2 separate regions of the Homo sapiens genome follow, and region 2 is linked to region 1. A link means that fine-mapping ties the variant in region 1 to the expression of a gene that starts in the linked region. Tissue or cell type: unexposed skin. Region 1 holds a variant in brackets; the other region holds the start of a gene. All regions are shown on one strand. Distances are between the middles of the regions.

What was found.
Region 2: it holds the start of ZNF133, and the variant in region 1 is fine-mapped to the expression of ZNF133 in unexposed skin (GTEx, PIP above 0.99).

The regions. Positions count from the first base shown.
Region 1 is chr20:18,308,194-18,317,273 of GRCh38, forward strand. It overlaps ZNF133 (zinc finger protein 133), which reads left to right. Exons shown (of 7, transcript NM_001352452.2): 7 at 6,876-8,803. The coding sequence ends at 8,623. It overlaps ZNF133-AS1 (ZNF133 antisense RNA 1), which reads right to left. Exons shown (of 9, transcript NR_187570.1): 7 at 8,519-8,619; 8 at 7,637-7,806; 9 at 3,168-5,770. Among named protein-coding and RNA genes, the nearest start is that of ZNF133, 24 kb to the left of the region's middle. The variant T/C (reference allele first, on the strand shown) is at 4,013.
Region 2 is chr20:18,283,768-18,292,847 of GRCh38, forward strand. It overlaps ZNF133 (zinc finger protein 133), which reads left to right and starts at 4,760. Exons shown (of 7, transcript NM_001352452.2): 1 at 4,760-4,837. RefSeq lists enhancers at 4,333-4,382, 4,462-5,367, 4,473-4,812, 5,373-5,492.

The DNA.
Region 1 (9,080 bases):
TATGTGCTTTAATTTTTAAAATTCTTTTGACAGTTTTATAAATGTTTGCACAGAAGTATATATTTTCTTTTTCTGGGTAAGAAATTTTCTCCTCTTGTTTTTATTAAATTGATTAATTCTGTCTTCAAATTGAGGGACCATAGCATACATAATATAAATTGTCGCTGTTTTTCAACTTGCTTGTATCCTTACTGTTCATCTGTTAGAAGGAATCCTAAAGCTCTCCACAGTCGTAATTTATATCAACTTCTCCATTTATTTCTAAGTTTTTGTGTTATATTTCACTTTATTGTTCTATTAGGTATAGAAAGGTTCAGGATATTTTTATCTTACTCATTAATGAAGTTTTTAATGCTGAAATTCTCTTAGTTCCATGAGCTATTGTTTCCTTTAACTTCCTCTTTATTTCTTTTTAGTCTTAGCACTGTACTTTCTGGTGCATCTTTTTGGTATTTTATTGTTCATCCTTTTATTTTAAAATAAAAACATTGTCATTTGGGTGTTTTGCTTTTAAGCAGCAGCATGTAGCTGGTGTTGCATTTGCTGTCAAACCAAGTGGTGTTAACTTTTAATAGTGACTTTACTTAATAACAGATAAATTTCATGAGACTTGCTCAGGGGTTGACTGAGGCAGATGAGTAGGTGTTTTACTACAGCAATAGGAAAGAAGGAAGGTCAGGGCAAAGGAAGTAAAGCATCTGTATTAGTCACCTTGGGCCGCCATGACAAAATACTGTGGACTAGCTGGCTTAAACAACAGAAATTCATTTAGTTATAGTTCTGGAAGCCAGAAGTTCAAGATCAAGTTGTCAGCAGGTTTGGTTGCTCTGAGTCCTCACTCCTGAACTTACAGATGGCCACCTTCCCCCTGTGTCTTCACATGGCCCTTTCTCAATGCTCACACATCTTTGTCGTCTCTTCCTCTTCTTAAAAGGACACCAGCCCCATTGGATTAGGGCCCACCCTTACGACCTTATTTAACCTTAATTACCTCTTTAAAGGCCCTGTCTCCAAATACAGTCACATTAGGGATTACAGCTTCAACATAAGAATTTGGGGGAAACACAACTCAGTCCATAACAGCATCCTTGTGAGAGCACCATAGTGATTTCATAGACTCTCCGCCGAATATATAGTTCCATAAAAGGTCAGTTGGATATGTAAGTCCATTGGATCTCAGTTGTATGAAGGAGTAAAGATGAGGGACTGGTGTATAAGCTGAAAGGTCATGGATTGGAGCCCCAAATAAGGTCAGGAACCAATGTGCCCATGGTGCTTGAGCAAAGTGAGTCAGAAGGTAGAAGAAAAGGCTGTGTCAGAGAAGGGAATGTGCACAGGAGAGAATGTGAAGATTGTGCAGTGTCTGTGAACAGCATTCACAGTGCAGGTGAGGTCAGTGTTGCTGAGAAGTTGGAGTCTTAGCCAGAGGCTCAGCCCTGTGGAGCACCCTGAGAGTGCTGACAGGTATTGGTGTGGAGAGGATGTGAGGCTGGTAGGTGATCAAATATTCAGGGCAGTGTGTGAAACCAGGAGACCTGTGGATGGTCCTAAAAAAAGTATGGTAGGTAATGGTGTGGAAGCCACATTACAAAACAAGGACATTCATCCCACTGTGTAATGCTTGAGATATGAAAGGAAGAAGCTGTCTATCTACTTGAGGGAATCTTACAAAAATCTTCCTCTCAAGGAACAAGAGAGGTGTCTAGCCAAGGACATGGAAGGAATGTTGGACAGAGAAGGAGAGGATGTAGGGGCATTATCTGACCTGTGTGTTCATTCTAGAATTGGCAGGTGGAGGCTGGGAAAATGCTATACACCCTGACCTTTGTACATTTACACAAATATGTGTTTTCTCAACCTGAAAAGTATAGAATTATCAAAACATTTATATTAATAACAAGCAGCTTACCTATCATTGTCTTAAAGCGAAACCTATCTTTTTTGTCTCGTTTTTAATCCTTGTTTTAATTTAAAGAAAAACAGCAGCTCTTACAATGATGTTGAGCACATTAAAAAGAATGCTGTACAATCCAAGGAGCAAGTCATTGTGGTTGCCCAGGAAGCTGTCTTGGAAACCCAAAATATATGTGTAACGGGAGGAAGACTGTTCTAGGTATAAAATACATCTTAACGGTTTCATTATTCTATATTTGGGACTTGGATTTAAGACAGGCAATATCAGAATCCTCAAAATAGGCTAGTTACAAGAAAAGTATTTAATTTTCTCGGCTGTTTCATTAATCAGAATGCTAATTCAATAAATGTAACGGAATCATTTGCAACAACATGGATGAACCTGGAGGATGTTATGTTAAGTGAAATGAGCCAGTCACAGAAAGACAAATACCACACAATCTTACTTATATGTGCAGTCTAAAAAGGTTGGACTCATAGAGAAAGAGAATACAATGGTGGTTACTAGGGGATGGGGGTGGTTGGGGAAGATGTTGGTCAAAGGATTTTCACATAGAAAGAATAAGTTCAAGAGATCTATTGTATAACATGATGACTACAGTTAATAACAATATATTGTATTCTTGAAAATCACTAAGAGTAGATTTTGGGTGTTCTCATCACAAAAAATGATAGGTATGTGAGGTGATGCAATATGTTAATTAGCTCAATTTAGCCATGTCACAATGTATATATATTTCAAAATGTACACAATGAATATATACATTTTTTGTCAATTTAAAAATTAATTAGTTTTTTAAAAGTAACAGGAGTTACCATAATTATGAAGAATTATATGCCCTCCTGAAGTGACTAATCCTTGTTATTTATATTGACTAAGAAGCCTGGTAAGAGGTAACACAGAAGCCTAAGAATGAGAACTAAAGCCAGGTGCTGTGGCTTGCACCTGTATTCCTAGCTACTCAGGAGGCTGAGACCAAGGCAGGAGGATCACTTGAGGCCAGGAGTTCAAGACCAGCCTGGGCAACATAGCGAGACTCTGTCTCTAAAAAAATTTTTATAATTAGCCAGGGTGAGGTGTTGTGTGCCTGTAGTCCCAGCTACTTAGGAAGCTGAGGAGGGAGGATTGCTCGAGCCCAGGAATTTGGGCTACGTGATCTATGATTGTACCACTGCACTTCAGCCTGGGCCACAGAGTGAGATCCTATCTGTAAGAAATTTAAAAAATAAAGAATGAGAAATTGGATATCTGGTGAGGTAAAAATAGAGCTTTTATTTCTAAGTTGAGTATACAAAAGACAAAAATTAGTTATTTTTCATATGGAGGACAGAAATACACCAAGTTATAATTCTTTTTTAGTTACCAGTATTATTGTCAAGTTTAAGCTTTTTTCTGTTTATTGGCAAGCTAAATAATTGTACATGTTTTTAAGCATATATAGTGTTGATGGACGGTATTTAAAGTTTTAAGTTTCAGTCTCAAATAATTAACATAAGGCTGATCTCATTAGTTTAGGCAAAAATACAAGTAAAATTATTGCATGAGAACACTTTGTATAGTTTTGTTTTTGAATTTTTTAACAAAAATATTTATTCTTATAATGATTTCCTAACAGAGATCTTAGAAATTGAAAAACAACTTAATCAGTCTTAAGTTAAAAACTGCCTGAAAAATATGCCATTTCTGGTATTTACTTTGAGTAAAGTAATTGTAGATTCACGTAATTTCTGGCACTGTCTGTAAATTATAAGATACTAGTTGGACACATATATCTACATGTGCCTAATCTTACATATTTATGAAGGCAATATTAGCCTATCTGATTTTTAAAATCAGTATAGGTTGACTCTCCCTTATCCAAAATGCTTAGGACCATAAGTGTTTCAGATTTTGGGTTTGTTTGGTTGGTTGGTTGGTTGGTTTGCATTTTGGAATATTACCATAAACATAATGAGATATCTTGGGTATAGGACCCTAGTCTAAACAGGAATTTCATTTATGTTTTGTGTACACCTTGTACACTTGGCCTGAAGGTAATTATATTTTTCCTTTGAGGATGCTGAATAAACTGAATTTTATGTGCCTGTGTTTTGACTA[T/C]GACCTGTCACATGAGATCAGCTGTGGAATTTTCTACTTGTGGCTGCATGTTGGTGCTTAAAGATTTTCAGATTTTGGAACTTTGCAGATTAGGGATGCTGAACCTATATATTAGTCTTGGAAGTTTAGATTAGTTAAACTTTCTTTGAGAAAGCCTACATATCAGAACCAAGTTTTATATCACTAGAATATTATGCTAATGTTATGTTTACACTGATAAAATAAGGGAAAAGACATTGCATTTGTCTTATTTGCAGGCTTTATCTTACTTTGAAATATTGATTCCACCCTTTAGTTACATACCAGCTAGTAAGGTTGTTTACATATTGTAGTAAATAAGCTCTGAGTGCCTCACATTTCTTTCTTATCGTGCAACCTAATAAGCAAGGTGCCTGGCTTAATTCACAGCTAAACTTTTTTCTTCAGAGCCAGAGCTTCAGCTGCAGCAAGAAAGATTTCCTTCAGAAACTGGCATATTTGAATCATTAGGAGTTCAATTTTCAATTTTATTTATTTTTTATTTTTTTGAGACAGAATCTTGCTCTGTTGCCCAGGCAGGAATGCAGTGGCGCAATCTCGGCTCACTGCAACCTCCGCCACGCAGGTTCAAGCACCTGCCTCAGCGTCCTGGGTAGCTGAAATTATAGGTGCACACCACCACAACCAGCTAATTTTTATATTTTTAGAAGAGACAGGGTTTCACCATGTTGGCCAGGCTGGTCTCAAATTCCTGACCTCAAGTGATCCACTCGACTCAGCCTCCCAAAGTGCTGGTACAGGCGTGAGCCGCTACACCTGGCCTGATTTTTTTTTTTTAATTTAGTTATTCTCGAGTTTTTAAATTTTAAATTTGTGTCAGTGCCCATTAGTCTCTATAAACCTATCAGTGCAGGAGCACCTTAGATTTAAAATATTTTATAAATAAATTCATTAACCTGGTAATATTTTGTGTTAAAATTTCTTCTAAGACTAAATATTCCTAGTGTATACACAGAATGCCAAATTTGGTGACCAACTGAAAAAACTGACTAATGGAGAATTAAAGTTTTGTTTTTCTTCTGTCACTCCATACAAATGTTAAAACCATGTTGAATTAAGATTTCTCTGAAGGCGCTTCTATAATTCTGAAATACATTTAGTGTAAATAAAAGCCTGCCACTTTACACATAGGCACAGCAGCTAGGGCTGTAATAAGCCTACATATCAGAAGCCTTGGTTCTTATAAGGGTGGGTGGGAGGTATTACCTGTGTCAAAATTATAGTCACTGTGCTTAACTCAGGACAGACACAGGAGTTCCTTTTACTGCTGAAAGACCTACTTACCCATGACTATGCCCTAATATGTATGAAGGTAAGCCAAGGAGATATGAGCTGTTGCTTCCCTTCTCCTGTCGTATTCAAGAGAAACAAAATAGCCAATAAATCAAATCTGACAACTCCACCCAACTCAAGTTTCCATAATGTCAAGGAAGTTGCTGGCCAGAAATAGAACACAAAATCAGTTATGAGTTGTGGAACCTCAGACAACCTAGATTAAACCAAATAAACTTAGTGAGAACTCAGTGAAAGCAGGTAGGATTTACTGCTGAAAAAGGGTCTTGAGGGACCACCCGGCACCTGTCCTGAATACAAGGGCTGGAAGAGCAGGCTTTCTCTGCAGGAGCTCCTCAGCACTGGCGTGGGGAGAGGCAGGCATCAGGTTAGATTGTTGGTTCCTCTGTCTGTCATCAAAGCCTGAGGTAAAGGCCACCAGAGCTACTGAAAGGAGAAAAGTTGAGCTTATTTACTGGCCAGGCAGTGAAACACAGAAGGGAAGACATTCACTTGGGCAGTTTGCTGAGTAGGAAGAGTCAGGAATTTTTAAGTGGTAAGAAAAGGTGGTTCTGCTCATTGTAATTAGGATTGAAAAGTAGCATTTCGCGTAGCATGGAATAATTCTGGAATGTGGATGTGTACACTTTTAATAAGCTTGATTTTTCATTGGTCAAGAAAAGAGCATTCGGGTAGATCCATCGAGATCTCTACCTCGTTACTCATATTGCCTGGTCATTGATTGCCTTCAGCTGACTAGACCCAGTTGTGATAAAACAATATACTCAATGTTGACATCTCCTACACAAGAGGCACTATAAGTAGAAATTTCTTCTTTTACACTGATTTTTGGGGAAAATTTTATTTACACTAATTATGGAAATAGGTTGGGGGTACCAGGAGGGAGCATCCTTTAAAGTCATTGGGGACCTGGGCTCTGTGTTGTCCACTGCTGAAAGCCTACTGCCTCCTAGAAATTCTGGCATAGAGTAATCTAACAAATCTTTGTTGAGTGGGGAGACAGCAGCTCGGGTGTGTCACATACTGTTTCACTACCCTCTCATGCTCCTCCCTACACCAGGGCTTCTCTGTTCACTCTAAATAACTGCTTTCTCAATCCATCCCCTTGTCCTCATAGGGAAATAAGGAAGGACATTTCCACATGAGTCCTAGGGTTAGACATCTTTCCATCAAAGAAGAAAGTACTTGTGGACATGATTTATCTCAGTGTGCATGGTTGTGAGTTAGAAGGTAATTAATTGTATTGAAGGTGAGGGGGAACTGTTCCATACTGGCCCTATTTACACACCCAAAAATGCCAGGGATGCTTGTGTAGTCTTATATGTAGAGCAGGTCTTAACAAGTGGGTTTTCTAGATTGTAATGCTAGACGTAATAAGTAGCAGTAGGCTGGAGAGTAGGCCATGTAAAGGAAGTCCCGGTTGGATGGCACTTAAGGCCTAAGTGTTTTGAAGCCTAGGGGATCTGACTAAGCTGATTGCTCAGGCTGCCCACTGAGGACTCAGTTGTGACTCACACTTTTCTCTCTGCAGCAGATCCAGAGCCAGAGCTCTACCTCGATCCTTTCTGCCCTCCGGGTTTCTCCAGTCAGAAATTCCCCATGCAGCATGTGCTGTGTAATCATCCCCCCTGGATCTTCACATGCTTGTGTGCAGAAGGTAACATCCAGCCTGGGGATCCGGGCCCAGGGGACCAGGAGAAGCAGCAACAAGCCTCTGAGGGGAGACCCTGGAGTGATCAAGCAGAAGGTCCTGAGGGAGAAGGTGCCATGCCTTTGTTTGGAAGAACCAAGAAAAGGACTCTGGGAGCGTTCTCCAGGCCACCCCAGAGGCAGCCAGTCAGCTCTCGGAACGGCCTCAGAGGGGTGGAGTTAGAAGCCAGCCCAGCTCAGTCAGGGAACCCTGAGGAAACAGACAAATTGTTGAAGAGGATAGAAGTCTTAGGATTTGGAACAGTCAACTGTGGAGAGTGTGGACTGAGCTTCAGCAAGATGACAAACCTGCTCAGTCACCAGCGGATACACTCAGGGGAGAAGCCCTACGTGTGTGGGGTATGTGAGAAGGGCTTCAGCCTAAAGAAGAGCCTCGCCAGACACCAGAAGGCACACTCGGGGGAGAAGCCAATTGTGTGCAGGGAGTGTGGACGAGGCTTTAACCGGAAGTCAACGCTAATCATACACGAACGGACACACTCCGGTGAGAAACCTTACATGTGCAGTGAGTGTGGGCGAGGCTTCAGCCAGAAGTCAAACCTCATCATACACCAGAGGACACACTCAGGGGAAAAGCCTTACGTGTGCCGGGAATGTGGCAAAGGCTTCAGCCAGAAGTCAGCTGTCGTGAGACACCAGAGGACACACTTGGAGGAGAAGACCATCGTGTGCAGTGACTGTGGCCTGGGCTTCAGCGACAGGTCAAACCTCATCTCCCACCAGAGGACGCACTCTGGGGAGAAGCCCTACGCCTGCAAGGAGTGTGGGCGATGCTTCAGGCAGAGGACCACCCTTGTCAACCACCAGAGGACACACTCAAAGGAGAAGCCCTATGTGTGCGGGGTGTGTGGGCACAGCTTCAGCCAGAATTCAACCCTCATCTCTCACAGGCGGACACACACTGGGGAGAAGCCGTATGTTTGTGGGGTGTGTGGGCGAGGCTTTAGTCTCAAGTCACACCTCAACAGACACCAGAACATACACTCAGGAGAGAAGCCCATTGTGTGCAAGGACTGTGGCCGGGGCTTCAGCCAGCAATCCAACCTCATCAGACACCAGAGGACGCACTCAGGCGAGAAGCCCATGGTGTGTGGGGAGTGCGGGCGAGGCTTCAGCCAGAAGTCAAACCTTGTTGCACACCAGAGGACGCACTCAGGGGAGAGGCCGTATGTGTGCCGAGAGTGCGGGCGAGGCTTTAGCCACCAGGCCGGTCTCATCAGGCACAAGCGGAAGCACTCGAGGGAGAAGCCCTACATGTGCAGGCAGTGTGGACTGGGCTTTGGCAATAAGTCAGCTCTAATTACACACAAGCGGGCTCACTCGGAAGAGAAGCCTTGTGTGTGCAGAGAGTGTGGCCAAGGCTTTCTCCAAAAGTCACACCTCACCTTACATCAAATGACACATACGGGGGAGAAGCCATATGTGTGCAAGACGTGTGGGCGGGGCTTCAGCCTCAAGTCTCACCTCAGCAGACACAGGAAGACCACGTCTGTCCACCACAGACTGCCAGTGCAGCCCGACCCTGAGCCGTGTGCAGGGCAACCTTCGGATTCCTTATACTCTCTCTGAAGGCAAAGATGGGGACAAGGACTAAGAGTCAGAATGTTGACACTTTGATGAAATGGAGTAGAGAAATGCATTCTGTAAGTGGTCAAAGGACATTTGACTGTTTACTTTCTCCACACTAAGTCTTCTCCATGTTTTGTGGCCTTCGGTTGTAATAAACTTGGCTTCTTTATACATCTGTAACTGTGCCTGTGTCCCTCATTCACTCATCTATAACAGGGATAAGGAATGATACAGACATCTGAAACCCTTAAGTCCACTATTCCACAGGAATTCATTTCCTCGGAAAACAAGAACCAAATCATTTGCAGATTTATTAGAAAGACTGGACCTTTGTATGGGGAGAGAATCTAGGAACTACATAAAGAGATTTCATGGGATGGGAGGGGATCTTCCAGAAAGTGTAGCTTCCTCTAGTCCGGCTCCATCTGCAGCTACCCCCATCCCTTGGCTCTGACAG
Region 2 (9,080 bases), 24 kb before region 1:
TTTAACCCTTTAAACTAATTTTATTTTACTTCAAAACTGGTTACTGAATATCATTAACCTTTGAGGTATATTTCTGTGAGTTAAGCAGAAACATAAATTGACTTTTTAAATGGATGAACCTTATTAAACTTGCAGCTGATTTTTTTGTCAATATTCTAATAAAAGGAACCTCGCCAGCATTTCAGAGAAAGGGCTACAAACCCAACAACCAGTTAAAGTTCCTTATGTAACTATGGTCTTATTGATTATAACAAATTAGCTGCCTATGTGAGGATTTGTCCTAGATCTAGGATAGCCAGAGAAATAAATATAAATTTTGTGACTTACAGTAGTTATCAAATTAACGTGTTCTGCTGACCATGATGGAATAACTGGTATCAGATGATCATTCCCATTATAAATAACCATAACACTGGGGAAAGTATAAAGCAACTATTTTCAGGCCCTGGACTATAGGTTGCACAAAATTGTGATCCCTGAGAGATGGGAAATTCAGAAAATGAGTTCTACGTTTGCCCTGGCTAACTGCTTGGGGACAATTTCCTGACCATGATATGGGATGGTGGGGGAAAGACACACTAGTCTCACTGAGATGAGGAGGCAAAAAAGACTTTAGGGATGGTGAAGCAGATGACACTGGTAGGGTAGGTCTCAGAAAGGAGGCAGCTGTGCAAAGAGGGGAAAGCCCACCTCAGCTGAAGTTGAGCTTTGCTTGTGCAGGGTAAATATGCAATGATTACCAGAAAACAGCTGCTTGAGAGAAGAATGGAAATACTAGAAGTTTAGCAGGGCTGGCGAGTGTAGGCATTCCAGCCCAATCAGAATAAACAAACCTCATTAACACCTCAATCATTCAGCTGAGAAACCAGAGAGGCCATGCCATAAAATAAGGACCACATCTTATAGTAAGGTCTTCTCAAGATATGCTCTAACTGGAACTAAATTAAGGACGTAAAAATATCTGCATGGGTTAAAGAACTTGGAGTTTGAGTCCTGCAAGTTAGAGGAGCCTGGTAAACACTTTGACCTTTCAAAGATCTATCCTAACAAAGAATAAAATGAAGCCTGCACAAGTTCAAAACATTCATCCAGTAATTAAACTGCCTACAGGTAAAAAAAGCACTTTCAGACTAACGTAAGAGAATTTAGAATCATGCCACAAAAAATGTCCTGCATAAAAAAACTTTAAAATTACTAGACATGCAAAAAAACAGGAAGTGTGACCCACTGTTAAGAAAAAAAGGCAGTCACAGAAATAGATCCTGAGATGGTCCAGAGGTTTCAGCACACAGACTTTACAGAAACTAGCATAAACATATTAAAGAAAAATACACACATCACAAAGAAACAAATGGGGGTGGAAATCTCAGTGGAAATTATTTTAAAAAGAAACAAGTGGGAATTCTAGAACTAAAAATGTAACAAATAAAAATTTAAAATTTGCTAGATGGGCTTAAAAGATTGAAGATGGCAAAAGGAAGTTTCAGTGAACCTGAAGACAGGTCAATAGAAACCAATCTGGCAAACAGAAAAACATACTGAGGAAAATTGGATAGAGCTTCGGGAACAATATCAAATGGTCTAACATACGTGTAAGTGGAGACTCAAAAGGAGAAGAAATTGAGAAAGAATTATCCAAAATGAGAAGAAACTGAGAATTATTTAAAGATAATGATGGCTAAAGTTCCTAAATTTAATGAAAAACAATAGCTGACAGGTTAGAGAATCTCAATAAACCTCAAACTGGATTAATACCAAACAACAACAAATGATTTAGACACATGAATGTCAAACTGCTGAAAACCAAAGACAAAGCAAATTCTCAAGAGCGGTGTGTGTGCGTGCACACACACACACCCCTATCTACCCATTCTCAACTATACCAAAACAAACAAACAAACAAAAAAACCTGACCTTCCCTGGGGAAATATGAATAACCTGTCTTTATTTTCAAGTTCAAAAGGCAAAAGTCAGCTATATCTGGCAGCTGCTCCATGCACTGCCTTACCTGCATGAGGGATTTAAGCTGCTCAGTGGGTCAGATTTTAAGCTGGAAGAGAAGCCATTATCACCCAGTGAGACCAGATTGCTATAGTTTTCCAGCACCATCTCCCAGTATAGGTCCTTCTGAGCAGGACTCCACAGGCTTCATACCTCTTAGATGAAATCCACAGCCACAACCTTGAATATTATGAAAAACCATTATGCCAAACACAGCTCCGCTCACTCTGTTGACATGTGTGCCCATGTTGAAAACAAGGGAGCAAGAGGGCTGCCTTGGGGAAGATAGGTAAAATATCTAGGTCCTGCTTTTGACTGTAACTCTGGAGCTTGGATTCCAAGACCATTAACCCTATTCACTATCCAACCAGCATCACTTGCTGTGATCCTAGTCTGGCTATTATGGGCTTTACAAATGAAAACACAATTCCTAACCTTGAGGTGTTTTACATTTAATAGATAACATATTAAAAGAAAATATAAGTATAGAATCATGGTCTTTCTGAGATTTAGGAATTTGGAGATTCTTTAATCTAGCTGCTTATATTCAATTTAAAGATCTGAGCCCCTGATTGGTTTAAAGCCTTGTTACCCAGTCTGGTCTGAAGACAAGCAGTACCAGCATCATCTGGAAGCTTATTAGAAATGCTGATGCTTGGGCTCCATCAGGCATTCTGATTCAGAATTTGCTGCTTACAAGATCCCAAGTGACATGTATGCATGTTTTTGAGAGCGCTGGGTTAAATGATCTACCGAGGTATATGGTTCAGAAATAGCAACAACCAATAACTAAACTTCTGATTTTCCAAAACAAGATCTCTCTTCTACATTATTACACAACATCTTCCCTTCTCAAGAGGAAAACAGCTCTGTTATGAATAATGGATGCCCAGGCTCCACTGCAAACTCATTTCTTGGGGTGGTGTTCAGGCATTGTATTTTTAAAAGCTTCCAAGTACAGCCAGGGTTAGAAGAGTCTCAAGTAGTCACTATAGTATAGTGATCAGGGAAGGTTTCACGAAAGAGAGCTAGGTATTTGGTCTTGAAGGACCAGATGGATTCAGAGGAGCTAAGGGTATTCCAGATGAGGTATGGCATGGAGTGGGTGGGAAATGCCAGGAGAAAAAGAGGACATGGCAGCAAAGAGTGTTTTAGAAAGCAGGCAATCCAGATTTCTAGATGGAAACTCCTAATTATTAAATGCTGAGGTCTGTCAAAGATGAAACTGGAGGCTGGACACACCAAATATCTGTATGACAGAGCTGTACATCTAGACGGTGGACATCTAGCATCCCTGTCTATATGCAAGTCAGCTGGCTGCAAGACCACGTGCTGCTGAAAATCTCACTGTGGTCATGACAGTCCACCCAGTGGCTCAGACCCTGAGATTCTGTTCACACTTCCTACACTCTTCCTTACTCGTCTGTGTTCTTCCAACTCCTCATCTTGCCTAATTCCTCAGGCAGCACCTCATCCTGTAAGTCTTCATTTCCAGGCTTAAGAGATGTCAGCCATCTGTGTCTTTATTGTACAGCCAGCACAAGTGAACACTTGAACACAGGCATCCCTGCATTGTTGTTCTGAACCTTTATGTGTATTAACAACTAATTTCTTGGTGATGACTGACTCATGAGGCAGAGAATGATGTTGAGGGATGAATCCAATTGACACTGGACATGTCTCCGGAGCCAGGACTGAACTGAATTCACAATAAATAATGTAGCCTCGGGGTACCAGAAGGGAATGGATTCACCCTCTGAGAGCTACAAAAGAATTTTAGGAAATTCTCATCTCCCTGGCCCTTCAGACAGTGGTCATTTTCTTGGTCTTCCAAGAGAATGACAAAGTTTCAGAAAGCCTATCTGAGGAAGGTGAAGGGCAGTGAGAGGGTGCACGGGTGGAAAAGCCCTCTCAAGAGTGACGTGGGCCTTCCCCTCGAGCTCCCCAGATGGGGCGTCCCAGATGGCACCAGCGCAATCTTGTTCTCAACCAGGATCCCGGACAAAGACCTAGAGATCCAAGCCGACGGCAGGCCAAGCTCTGGCCCGAGACTGAGGCTTCTGCTTCTCAGGAGATGAGAGTTTAACAATAACTTCGTGGATTTCAAAAAGAAGAAAAAGGTCTCAGGGCACCGGAAAAGGTGTATTCGGGTTGAGGGCGTGGGCTCAGAATCGGGTCTACCTCGTACGGGATGTGAGACTTCAGGCAGACTGCTCGGCCTTTTCAAGGCTTTAAATGGAGCTAAAGGGTATACGACATGACGTTCGCCCGGTGTTTAGGAATATGGGGCGTGACTTTCCAAGCAGGCGGCTGGAGCCAGGGAGACCACAGGCCGCTGCAACACAAACCAGCACCTGAACAAGCTTGGTCAGCCAGCGGTACACCTCCGCCAACCCCAGAAGCCGAACAGATGCGCCCCGAAACGTCATTTCCGCGCGCCAAGGGGCGGGGCCGGTACCGGGTGCGGAAGTCGCTCCAGGGGTCACTGGGAAGTGTAGTTTTCGAGACAGAGGCGCTCAGAAGGAGGGTCACAGTAGGGCCAGGCACTCTTCTCGGGAGCTCCTACGTGTTTTATGCACGTGGTTAAGAAAAAAGAGGGAGAATTCAGGTGCCACAGTGGCCATTCTCCGGTGACCGGAGCGTGTTACTCAGAAACGGATCCGTCAGAGGCCAATGGGAGCTGCCGGCCTTCAGGGCGCGCCTGGTGGCGCCGAGCATCCTGGGAGGTGTGGTCCGGGCGCTGTGCCGAGGATTCGGGGTAGTGTAGTCCTGGCGCCCCGCTGGAGGAGCTCCCCAGCTGGTGGCTGGAGCGACCCCTTGTTCTTTGGTGGCGCTGGTGAGTGAGGCTCCCGCGGGACCCTTGCCGCAGCCGTACCCTTTTCTGCGCGAAAAGGAAGGTCCCGAAAGGCTGGACTATGGGCTGAATTTGGGGACCGTGCGGGTGGCGCGGGGGTGGTGATTGTGGTGGGAACGCGCTGGCGTGGCGCAGGCCGTCCTCTCCCAGATGTCTTATTTTGGGGGTGTGGGCGTGCATCTCCAGGGGAGTTGGGTGAAGCCCATCCGTGAAACTGGATGGTGATGAGTGGGGGATCGGGCTCTCTCTCCTAGGGTTCTTGTGGGTGGGGACAGGTTCGGCTTTGGCTGAAGTCGGGTATTGGGAAAGGGAGTCGCTGATGCCATAAGTCCCCGGTTTTGGGGGAGTTGAATAAATAAGCTTTTTGGGGGAATGGTATTTCCCAGGTGGTGGAATGGGAACCATCCCTGGGGCCATGTGTCCCCGAGGCATTGGTCGGTTGAGGGCTAGTCTCTTGGGGCCACACTATTCTTCGGCTTTGCTGGAGTGGAATGAGGAGCGGTCTGGCTTGACCAAACAAGCCAAGGTTAGACTGGATCTGGGGTGGCCATTTTGCCGCGATCTTAGGGTTTCACTTTGGTTGGTCACCCCCGGGTTCGGGCGTTGGAGGAGGAAGTCTGGCTGGGACGCACAGGACAGGTTTTTTCCAAAGGTCCCAGGGACCGTCATTGATCGCAAGAATTACGGATTCCCAGGCCCCTGGTGTGGCCAGGCTTTGGGATTTTACATTCCATTTAAGTTTTTATTGCGGAGAAATTTCAAACAGCCAGAAGTAGATAGAACTCTATAGACCAGATCTCCATCACCCAGATTCAACACTTAAAACCTTATGACCAATCTTGATTCATCTCAGAATGGACACAGAGAATCCTTGCAATCCAGAGTTCACCGTCACTGCCCTTACTGTGTAAGAGCACGGTCTCCACAGCCACATTTCCTCTAGGCTCTGTCACTTTATAGCTGTGTCACCTTGGGCAAGATGCTGACTTCACTGTACCTCAGTTTCCTCGATTTTATCCTAAAGAGGATAATAGCATCTATCGTATTGGGTTGTTGAAAGGATAGAATGAGGTGAAACTCCTACAGTGGCTGTAACAGTCTCTGGTGTATACTAAGTGTTCAGTGAATATTACCTTTCATTAATAACAGGCACAGAGAAGGTCGCTTCATGCTCAGCGTCAACAGCATATCAGGGCAGGTCGTGCTTTCAACCTGTACCCCAGCTGTGTTCCCAGGAAGCTGCCCGCAGTTCTTTTCTCCTTTTCTTCTGTGGCAGGTTCATTCCTGATGCTGTTAAGGAATAGGAGGTACTGCCCTGCTGGAGAGGATTTCCCTTGATTTTCTTGAACGCTTTTTGTTCTTGTTCTGCCTCCCTGTGGCTCCTGTCTGCCCAGAGAGGACTGCCTGCTGGGGAAAGGGGGTACTCCTGAGCTCCTGACAGCCCAGCTTCAGGTGGGTGCCACTTACCTTTTGCATTTCGAACCATGAGTGGGTTTCTTTTGCTCAGCTTTGACGTCTGTGTTCTACAATGTCCCATCCAGGGATCAGGGCCCCAGCTGGTTCCTTCAGGAAACTAGGCTTGTTTTAAGAGTGATCATTTTCACAGGGAATATTTTTCAGAGCTGATGCTCTCATTCATTACACCTATATTCTTCCCCTACATTCCTTCTTTCAGTATTTGTTCAGACTGCTCATTCCCAGGGCTTGTCAGGTCCTGTGAAGTTGTTAACATTCTGTTCTTCTGTCTTCCAATACTCTCACTTACTCTTTTCCCTGCTAGAGTTTTGGCAGCAAATCCCAGTTATATCATTTCACCTGGGAACACTTCAGGAGGCATCTCTAACACATAAGGACTTCTTTTTTTAACATAACCACAATTTCATTGTTATACAGTTACATTGTTACAATTATATTTTGTTATACCCAACAAAATTAATAACTTATTAATATCATTTAATATCTAGCCCATATTGTTTTCCCCCATTGTTAAAAAAAAAATCTTTTTTTTCCACCAGTCAGAACAGCCCTGGTCAGAGGCAGGAGAGGGAAAAGTATCTGGAAACAGCATCCCAGTTTTCCCTATCTCTGCCTCATTTCTCCTCCTATTTCTTCTGATCTTGCTGATCTGTGTTGACAGCCTTATAACTTGATATAAGCTGGACCTCTGAGTTTTCCTTGCATCCTTGTTTCCAAACTTACTTCCCATTAGAAGTTGTGTCCTCCTGGCCGGGCACAGTGGCTCACACCTGTAATCAGCACTTTGGGGGGCCAGAGCGGGCAGATCACCTGAGGTCAGGAGTTCGAGACCAGCCTGGCCAACATGGTGAAACCCCATCTCTACTAAAAATACAAAAATTAGCCAGGCGTGGTGGCACACACCAATAATCCCAGCTATTCAGGAGGCTGAGGCAGGAGAATCTGTCGCCTGGGCAACAGAGCAAGACTCCACCTCAAAACAAAACAAAAGTTGTATCCTCCTATTCCACCTGTGCATTCTTCTCGATTCCTTTTCTTTCCCTTTGTCTCCATTTCTGCACTGCCCTAGCTTCCTGTCTCTTCTTCACCTTCTTGCCTTGTCTTTCCTCCCATTTAGAGCTGAACTCCTTGAAAGAATTATCTATGTTTGTTGTCTGCGTTGCTATCCTTCTGTTATGTTTCGAATATTTTAGTAAGGCTTTTTCAAGTGACACCAAAAAATATTCTTGTCAGGGTTACCAATGGTCTCCTTGACTAAAGGCCACAATCAGTTCTCAGCAACATTTGATGTAATTGTTTACATCCTCCTTCTTAATATATCCTTTCACACAGTTGCTCTTGGTACTAGGTCTTCCTGGTTTTCCTCCTAACTCATAGCCTGCTCCTCCTCTGTCTCCTTTACTGGCTCTTCCTTCCCTCCCAAATTTCCACCGTGGAAAAGGCCCTGCTTCAGTTCTTAGACCTCCTGTCTTCTTCAGCTATACTGTCTCCTTGGTTCTCCCGTTCATTCTCAAGGCTTTAAATGCCATCTGTCTGAGGCTCAGCCTAGAGCTCTGTGTGCAACTCACATCCTGGTCCCCTACTGTCTCCTTCTTCACATTTCCAGTTGGATTTTTTTTTTTTTTTTTAGTGAGACAGGAGTCTCGCTCTATCGCCCAGGCTGGAGTGCAGTGGCACAATCTCGGCTTACTGCAACCTCCACTGCCCATCTTCAAGTGATTCTCATGCCTCAGCCTCCTGAGTATCTGGTCTACAGGTGTGTGCCACCCCACTTGGATATCTTATGGGCATCCCAAAACTAATGTGTGCAACAAGAAACTCTGATTACCTTCCCTGAACATGTTCCACCCCAGTGGTATATAGACCATCCTTTCAAGAGTTTATCTTGGAGCAGAAGCATTTCAGCTCTTTCCTTCAGATTGCTTGGAGTCATCAAGGAGTCATCCTTGATCCTGTCTTGCTCTTATACCCTCATCCACACTACGGAAATCTGGACTCCGACAGTTTCCATGCCCTGCTGTTTCCACCATGGTCCAGGCCACCGTCTCATCTGGACGATCATAGCCTTTCAGTGATCTCTTTGTTTCTGCCTATGTCCCGCTAAGGTACATGAATCAGTGGAGCAAATAGAAGGAGATTTTAAATGTAAATCGAATCATGTCATGTGTTTGCTCAAAATCTTCCAGTGGCTTCTCATCCTAACCAAAGTCAAAACCAGTATCCTACAAAGCTAGGTCTGATGTCCCTACATTTACTCTTGGCCTTCATCTGTACCACACTATCTCAGTCACTCCACACCAGCCACAGTGAACTGTCCGTCCCTTGGCCATGCCAGCCTGATTCTTCCTTGCATCAGGGCCTTTGCACTGACTGTTCTCTTGCCCTAGATGTTCTTTTCAAAGTTATTCCCTGGGCTCTTCACATCCTTGAGATTTTTACTCAGTCACCTCAGAGATGCCTTCCCAAATCACCCTATCTAAAATTCTAAAACCTCACCCCACTTCTGTGACTATCCTTTCTCCTTCCCTGCTTTATTTCTCTTCATGCCACTCATCACTTTCTGATACAGTGTGTATTTTATTTATTCATGTAATTGGCCCATCTTTCTCCTCTAGACTTTCATGTCAGTGAGGGTAGATTTTTGTCTTTGTTCACTTCTGTATCCCCAGGGTTTAAAATAGTGCCTATCACACAGTAGGAGCATAATAAATACTTGCCAAATGAAGGCATAATCCATAGGAGTAATGGA